Homo sapiens: one gene and its partner. The protein of the gene in region 1 purifies or fractionates together with the protein of each later gene. This does not show direct contact. Each region holds a gene or a part of one and is shown on either strand. Other genes may lie near its edges.

Region 1 (3,822 bases):
CTTTCTTATTTACTGAACATCAGAATGAAGTCATTGTATGGCACTGTATGAGAGTAGTATGATGGTTGCTAGCAAAAAAAACAAAAAACAAAACAAGCCAGCAAGTTCTCCACCAAATATGAAGAAATATCTCCCACCCTGAACCCCACCACCCCCCAATTACATTTTAGTAGTAGAAACTTGACACTTGACCTGTACAGCAATGTTCTGAGAAAGCTTCAGGGAAGAGCTATCTTGATCATCATCCTGATCCACTCGGACTCCTTCAACCCCATTTGCTGGAGACACTACAGGTCGGAAATCCAAGCTTGTGTCCCTGTTACCTTCCTTTAGGATGGAGGTTTGTGGGGATTTCTCTTCAGAGCAATTCCTGGAGGCAAGCTGCTTAGTATGGCACCCTGCCTTAAGAGACCGAGTGACTGGATGGAGGCTCTCCCGAAGGCTTGTGTCCCCCTCCTCTCCTGCTGTGCTGGCCACATCCTTCAAATCAGACTGAGACCCACTGCCAGAAAGACAAAGGGCTGTGGCTATCAAGTTTTCTCCTAAAACCACCTGGTGCGCTGCTGAGGTGTCACCTGCTGATGAACCAGGATTCTGCTCTGAGTGCTCCAAATGGACATTTCTGTTATTCTCCTTGGTTATTGTTTGGCTACTTACACTCAACAGAGGCGAGTTCTTCTGCTTCTGTGCAGAGTCTTTGGTGCTATCAAACACACAAGATAAAAAGAAAAGTATATAATACTTTCAACCTAACTACTAGAAGAACAAAACTAGACTACGTAAACCCTCCCGACTATCATAATGAAAGAACTTAGTTTCAATCCAATGATTTCTATCCTGTATGCAGGTAGTATAGCCTGGTGGTTAAGACCTAGTTTTTTGTTTTTGGTTTTGTTTTTAGAGAGGTTCTAAACTCTGTCACCCAAGCTAGAGTGCAGTGCCGCCATCAAGGCTCACTACAGTCTCAACATCCTTGGCTCAAGCAATCCTCCACCTCAGACTTGTGAGTAACTAGGACTACAGGCACATGCCACTACGCCCAGCTAATTTTTTGTATTTTTTGCACGGTTTTGCCATGTTGCCCAGGCTGGTCTCGAACTCCTGTACTCAAGGGATCCATCTGCCTGCCTCAGCCTCCCAAAGTGTTGGAATTATAGGCGTGAGCTGGCCAAAAACCTGGGTTCTACAGTAAATGGCCAAACATAAATGATTCTGAAGATCCAAATAATTTTTGAGTGCCAATTTTAATAACTTTTGGGGATACCGATGAATTAGCCTAATACTAGTTAGAATATTTAATTTAGTTACATGTATTAATTTAGTTATACATAATATTATAATCAAATATTAACTTAGAAGTATTGTTTTTATTCCTCTCTCACCTTTCACAGGAATAATTTTCATTCAAACTCATTATACAGATCTTTGACCAGAACCACTTTTTAGGTTCTTCAACAGTTTTCCAGAGTATAGAACCTACACTTTAAGTTGTCTAAAGTACAATTTTGAATCCAAAATTGAAGCTGTCAATAGAAATTTTATCCCACACAGTAAGTATACATATGCTTAACATTAGGATATTCTGTCACTTGTCACAGCCATTCAAGGTATTGCTTTTATTTTTTATTTATTTATTTATTTTTTGAGACAGGGTTTCACTTTGTCACCCAGGCTGAAGTGAGGTACTGCTTTTTAAAGGGGACTTTAAAACATATTTACAATGACATCCAACATTCACAATTGCACATCTTTCACCCAGGAATTACGCCTATGTTTAATTTCTTTGACCCCACCCTCTTTTTTTAAACTAATTCTATAACTGACACTCTTAACCATACCCAACTAGCAATGGGGATTCAAGTTGATGCGTCTTTGTTTCCTCAGTCGTACTAGTTCAAAATAAAACAACTGAAAGAATATCTCGCTGGGGAGCAATGGCTCATGCCTGTAATCCCAACACTTTGGGAGGTCAAGGCAGGAGGATCATTTGAGGTCAGGAGTTCAAGACTAGCCTGGGAAACATAGCAAGACCCTCTCTCTACATAAAAATTTAAAAATTAGCCAAGTGTAGTGGCGTGCACCTGTAGCTTCAGTTACTTGGGAGGCTGAAGTGAGAGGACTGCTTAAGCCCAGGAGGTGGAGGCTGCAGTAGGCCATGATCGCACCACTGTACTCCAGCCTGGATGACAGATGGAGACCCTGTCTCAATAATATTAATAAAAACACTCGAAGCTGATTCCTTCCTGCTGGGAGTTAACTGTGAGCGGGTGCTTAATTAAAAATTCAGGCATATACAGTACCTGAGTTTGAATCCTGACTCCGCCCACCATTTACAAGCTGTTTGACTCTCGGCAAGTTACCTCATTTGTAAAACAGAAATAATACTATCCACCTAACAAGACTGTTGTGAGGATTACATGAGATAATGCACATAAAGTACTCAGTACAGTGCCTGGCACATAGTAAACATTCAATAAACCTTAGCTGCCATTATTACTAGTGTATGAAGTTGATTTTATTTATCAAAACTCTGACTCCAACATAGCTTGGAAACCTTGGGCAAATTACTAACCTCTCTGTGTCTCAGTTTCCTCACCGGTAAATGCGAATAATATTATCACTACCTCCTGGGACTGTTGTGAAGATTAAATGTGTTACCACGTATGGAACTGTAGTTAAGTGTTAGCTACTGTATTAGGGGACCCAGGTACACTGGAAAAGAGTTGAGGGACGGCCAGGTGCGGTGGCTCATGCCTGTAATCCCAACACTTTGGGAGGCTGAGGCGGGCGGATCACAAGGTCGGAAGATCGAGACCATCCTGGACAACATGGTGAAACTCTGCCTCTACTAAAATACAAAAAATTAGCCGGGTGTGGTGGCGGGCGCCTGTTGTCCCAGCTACTCAGGAGGCTTAGGCAGGAGAATCGCTTGAACTCGGGAGGCAGAGGTTGCAGTGAGCGGAAATCGCGCCACTGCACTCCAGCCTGGGTGACGGAGCAAGATGCCATCTCAAGAACAAAAAAAAAACAAAAAAATTGACGGAGCTAGGTGCAGTGGCTCATCCCTGTAATTCCAGCACTTTGGGAGGCCAAGACGGACAGATCACTTGAGGTCAGGAGTTCAAGACCAGTCTGGTCAACATGGTGAAACCCGGTCTCCACTAAAAATACAAAAATTAGCCGGGCTACCAAGCAGGTGCCTATAATCCCAGCTACTAGGGAGGCTGAGGCAGGAGAATCACTTGAACCCGGGAGGCAGAGGTCGCAGTGAGCCAAGATCGCACCACTGCACTCCAGTCTGGGGGACAGGGCAAGAGTCTCTCTCAAAAAAAAAACAGAGTTGAGGAAGAATACACAGTCAGCCTCTTTATGTAGAATGTGGTCCACATTCATGGACTCAACCAACCATGGACTGAAAATATTCAAAAGGATAAACGTTTGTGATGATGGACATGCTAATTACCCTGATCTGATCACTATACATCACATACACCACAACATCACTATGTACCCCCATGAATACGTACAATTATCGTGTCCATTTTTTAAAATATAAAAATAAATCACTGAAAAGTAAAATACCCAGTCTGGCCAACGTGGCAAAACCCCGTTTCTACTCAAATACAAAAATTAGCCAGGCGTGGTGCTGGGCGGCTGTAATCCTAGCTACTTGGGAGGCTGAGGTAAGGGAATCCAGGAGACGTTTGAACCCAGGAGACGGAGGTTGCAGTGAGCTGGGTTCACGCCATTGCACTCCAGTCTGGGCGACAGAGCGAGACTCCATCTCAAAAAAAAAAAAAAAAAAAAAGGCTGGGCGTGGTG
Region 2 (3,822 bases), on another chromosome or scaffold:
TGACCATGTGACTTGTTTTCATCAATGCAAAGTGACCAGACATGACATACACATGTCTAGACAAAAGGTTTAACAAACACTTCATAGACTGGACATTGTTCTTTTTCCTCTGACACAGGAAGATGTTCCAGAAAAGGGTCATTCTTCAACTTAGATTGAGAAACAAGGAATAGAGCCACACAAAATAAAGCTGCTACAGCCCAGTCCCAGCCAACAACTGCAGAACTGCAGGACAAGTCATGTAAGCAAAAAACAAACTTCTCTGATGTATGCCACAAGATATTTGGGTTGCATCACTTCAGCATATCCTAGGGAAAGCTGACTAATTTACAGAGTGTATTTAAAATGATGGGAATAGTTAAGACCACTAAAAGAGGGTATATCACTAGAGAAACTCAATTTAGGTAAGACAAAGACATAGCAGAAGTGACTCAAAGGTGACAGTTATTTACTCATATCATTATATTGTTAATTAATTATGTGAAAATGTACAAAATGTGAGAATTTATTTCTACCATACTTTAATAATTGCTATTGTTAACAGATGCCTAGTACAACTGCCTCATTCTTTCCCCAATAAGAACAGTGGTCTGCATAAGCCTAAGAAGTGTAGGAAAAGGTCCATAGTTTCTATAGATCAGAAACAAATTCTATGAATACAAATAAGATTGTAATACTATGACTTCCCTCAAAGTATGTCTACTTAATGGTAATTAACATCATTATCTTGGTAATAAGAAAATCCCTGGAGAGAAATGGCAGTTTAAAATTGAAGTTGATCTTTCTTCCCAACATTAAAAAAATTGTTTTGAGTTGACTTCTTAGTACAAATTACCTCATCAAATTTTGGTTTTGAAATCCCTAATTCCACATCAAAACTTTCAAGTGGGGCCTGGTGCAGTGGCTCATGCCTATAATCCCAGCACTTTGGGAGGCTGAAGTAGGATCACTTGGGTCAAGGAGTCTGAGGCTGCAGTGAGCTACGACTGCACCACTGCACTCTAGCCTGGGCAACACAGTGAGATCCGTCTCTTTAAAAAAACAAAGCCTCTATGGTTAATGCCTTTATGATTGTCCAAATAAAAACAAATTTGATTTTCCACTTTATTATTAAAGTTATAATTTAAAATTTTCTAATTATGTGCAGAATGTTCAGGAAGGAATTCTTGGGGGAAAAATTGACATACAATAAGTATACTGAAAAATTCAGACAATCCTGTTATGCTTTACCTTGTCAATTTTATCATTAAAGGTTGTAGTTTTTAACTTCTTCCAGCAATTCATGTGAAATTCTATTTTACAGTACTGGCAACAGCTGATGCGTATAAAACCCTAGGGTTACAAAAAATTTTTTAATTAACGTTTTAAAGATGTCTCTGCACACTCACTCACTACAACATACATAAAGACAGAGAGAGCTTGACTAACATATTTATTTCCACAGCATAAAGTTGCATCATTCTTCAAAATATATCAAATATTTTATAAACATTATTTCATCTGATTTACTAACCAGGGACATTGGAACAGCAGGACAAGGGCAGCTACTAGCTTCTTGAATAAACCAGTATAACTCAATTAAGTGCCAGACTTATCTCAAATTTAGGTCTCTAACAGCTAATTCAATGATCACAATGACCTTTAGATTTGGGACTCAAATTTTATGAGAGATCAGAATTGCAACAAATCAGAGGTAACAATCTCACTTTGTTTCCTATCCTCCTAAGGTAGCTTGAAGAGGAAAAAGAATGAGCCAGCCTGCCTTCTCAGGTCACTACCCCAGCCCAGAGCGTTTATACATCAGTGGCTCTGGTTCCCATGTGAGACGATGTAGACCTAAAAAAGTCCAGGAAGGCTGGGCGTGGTGGTTCATACCTGTAATCCCACACTTTGGGAGGCTGAGGGGGTGGATCACGAAGTCAAGAGATCGAGACCATCCTGGCCAATATGGTGAAACCCTGTCTCTACTAAAAATGCAAAAATTAGCTGGGCGTGCTGGGACACGCCTGTAATCCCAGCTACTTGGGAGGCTGAGGCAGGAGAATTGCTTGAACCCAGGAGGCGGAGGTTGCAGTGAGCCAAGATCGTGCCACTGCACTCCAGCCTGGGTGACAGAGTGAGACTTATCTCAAAAAAAAAAAAAAAATCCTGGGAAAGGGGTGGACGACTGCTAACTAGCCAGAGAACTTGGGTGCCTCCAATTACAGATTGTTTTGAGCCCATTTTAAGAAATGATTTTGCAAGTTAATGTCCCACTGTACACTCATTATTTACCTTAAAGTCTGGATCAGTTATGTATATCTGGATCTTAGAATATCCATGGCACTTCTGATAGCAACAAATGGCATCTGGCACTGGAGGGAACTTGCATTCTTCAACAAATTTCTCTAACAGCATCTAAAACAAAATAAACAAAAATGATACCATTACAATACTAATCTGTCAATAAAAATGCTTGTGATTTCAATAACCTCTTGCCATCAAAATATTTTCAGCATAAGAATGACTAAATTTTTTCACCAACAACAAACTACATACAACTTTTAAAGTTTTTCCTTTTAAAAGGAAGGCTGATAAGAGACATAAGAGAGATTTAAAAAGAGGACTGGACAAAATTTTTTTTCAGAATTTCGAAAGAATCAAAATTTTGTCCTGTTACAATCATCAAATCGCATTTTATAATTTACAGCTCTCAGAAATCTTCCATAAGCATTAAGAGGAAGTCAAGTAAGGCAGAATAACCCTTAGGGTAATCCTGAGGACTTTACCAGGCTCCTCTTGCCCAACATCACCTCATCCAGAATCCTAACACTCCCATTATCTTCCTCCTTGCAGCTCTGCCACTGTTGTTTGTGGACTCCCTGGAGAATTATTCCACTGCTAATGAAGCCCCCAAGAGACTCATGCCATGCTTCCAGTGCTGGCTTTTTGTTATCAATAGCTCCTATGCCTCTATCCCAATCTTGTATGAAGAGAGGTAAATCCAAGAATCCCTGTGTTGTATTTTTTATAATAGCTTTGTTGAGACATAATTTACACACTATACAACTCAAATGAAGTGTACGGTTCGGTGTTCTTAGCATATTCACAGGATGTGCTGACATCACCACGGTCTAAATTTAGAACATTTTCAAAAAGAAACTCCATACGCATTAGCAGTCCCTCCTCATTTTCCCCTAACCTTCCAGGCCCAGCAATCACTGGTCTACTTTCTGTCACTATATACAGACTTGCTTATTCTGGAGATTTCATAGGAATGGACTCACACAAGCCCTTTGTGTTTGGCTTCTTTTACTTAGCATAATGTTTCCAAGGTCCATCCATGCTGCAGCATGTTATCAGTACTCTTTTTTTTTTTTGAGACAGCGTCTCACTCTGTCACTCAGGCTGGAGTGCAGTGGCACGATCTCAGCTCACTGCAACCTCTGCCTCCTGGGCTCAACTGACCCTTCCACCTCAGCCTCCTGAGTAGCTGGGACTACAGGCATGTGCCACTATGTTTGGCTAATTTTTGTATTGATGGGTTTCGCCATGTTGCCCAGGCTGGTCTTGAACTCCTGAGCTCAAGCAATCCTCCTGCCTTGGCCTCCCAAAGTGGTAGGATTACAGGCGTAAGCCACCAAGACTGGCCATTTGTTTTTGAGGCAGACTCTCACTCTGTTGCCCAGGCTGCACTGCAGTGGCACAATCAAGGCTCACTGCAGCCTCAACCTCCCAGGTTCCAATACTTACGTACCCATTTATCAGCTCACGAATACTTGGGCTATTTCCCATTTTGGGCTATTATGACTAATGCTGCTATGAACATTCATGTACAAGTTT

The links.
Region 2: the proteins of RNF214 (region 1) and TTC3 purify together in Homo sapiens (affinity purification with mass spectrometry; one large-scale study listed by BioGRID and IntAct). This does not show direct contact.

The regions. Positions count from the first base shown.
Region 1 is NC_000011.10:117,235,482-117,239,303, reverse strand, and holds part of RNF214 (RING finger protein 214), read right to left. Parts: intron 704-3,822; coding exon 193-703; intron 1-192.
Region 2 is NC_000021.9:37,146,056-37,149,877, reverse strand, and holds part of TTC3 (E3 ubiquitin-protein ligase TTC3), read right to left. Parts: intron 2,398-3,822; coding exon 2,275-2,397; intron 1,333-2,274; coding exon 1,231-1,332; intron 1-1,230. UniProt on the Homo sapiens protein: E3 ubiquitin-protein ligase which catalyzes the formation of 'Lys-48'-polyubiquitin chains. Mediates the ubiquitination and subsequent degradation of phosphorylated Akt (AKT1, AKT2 and AKT3) in the nucleus.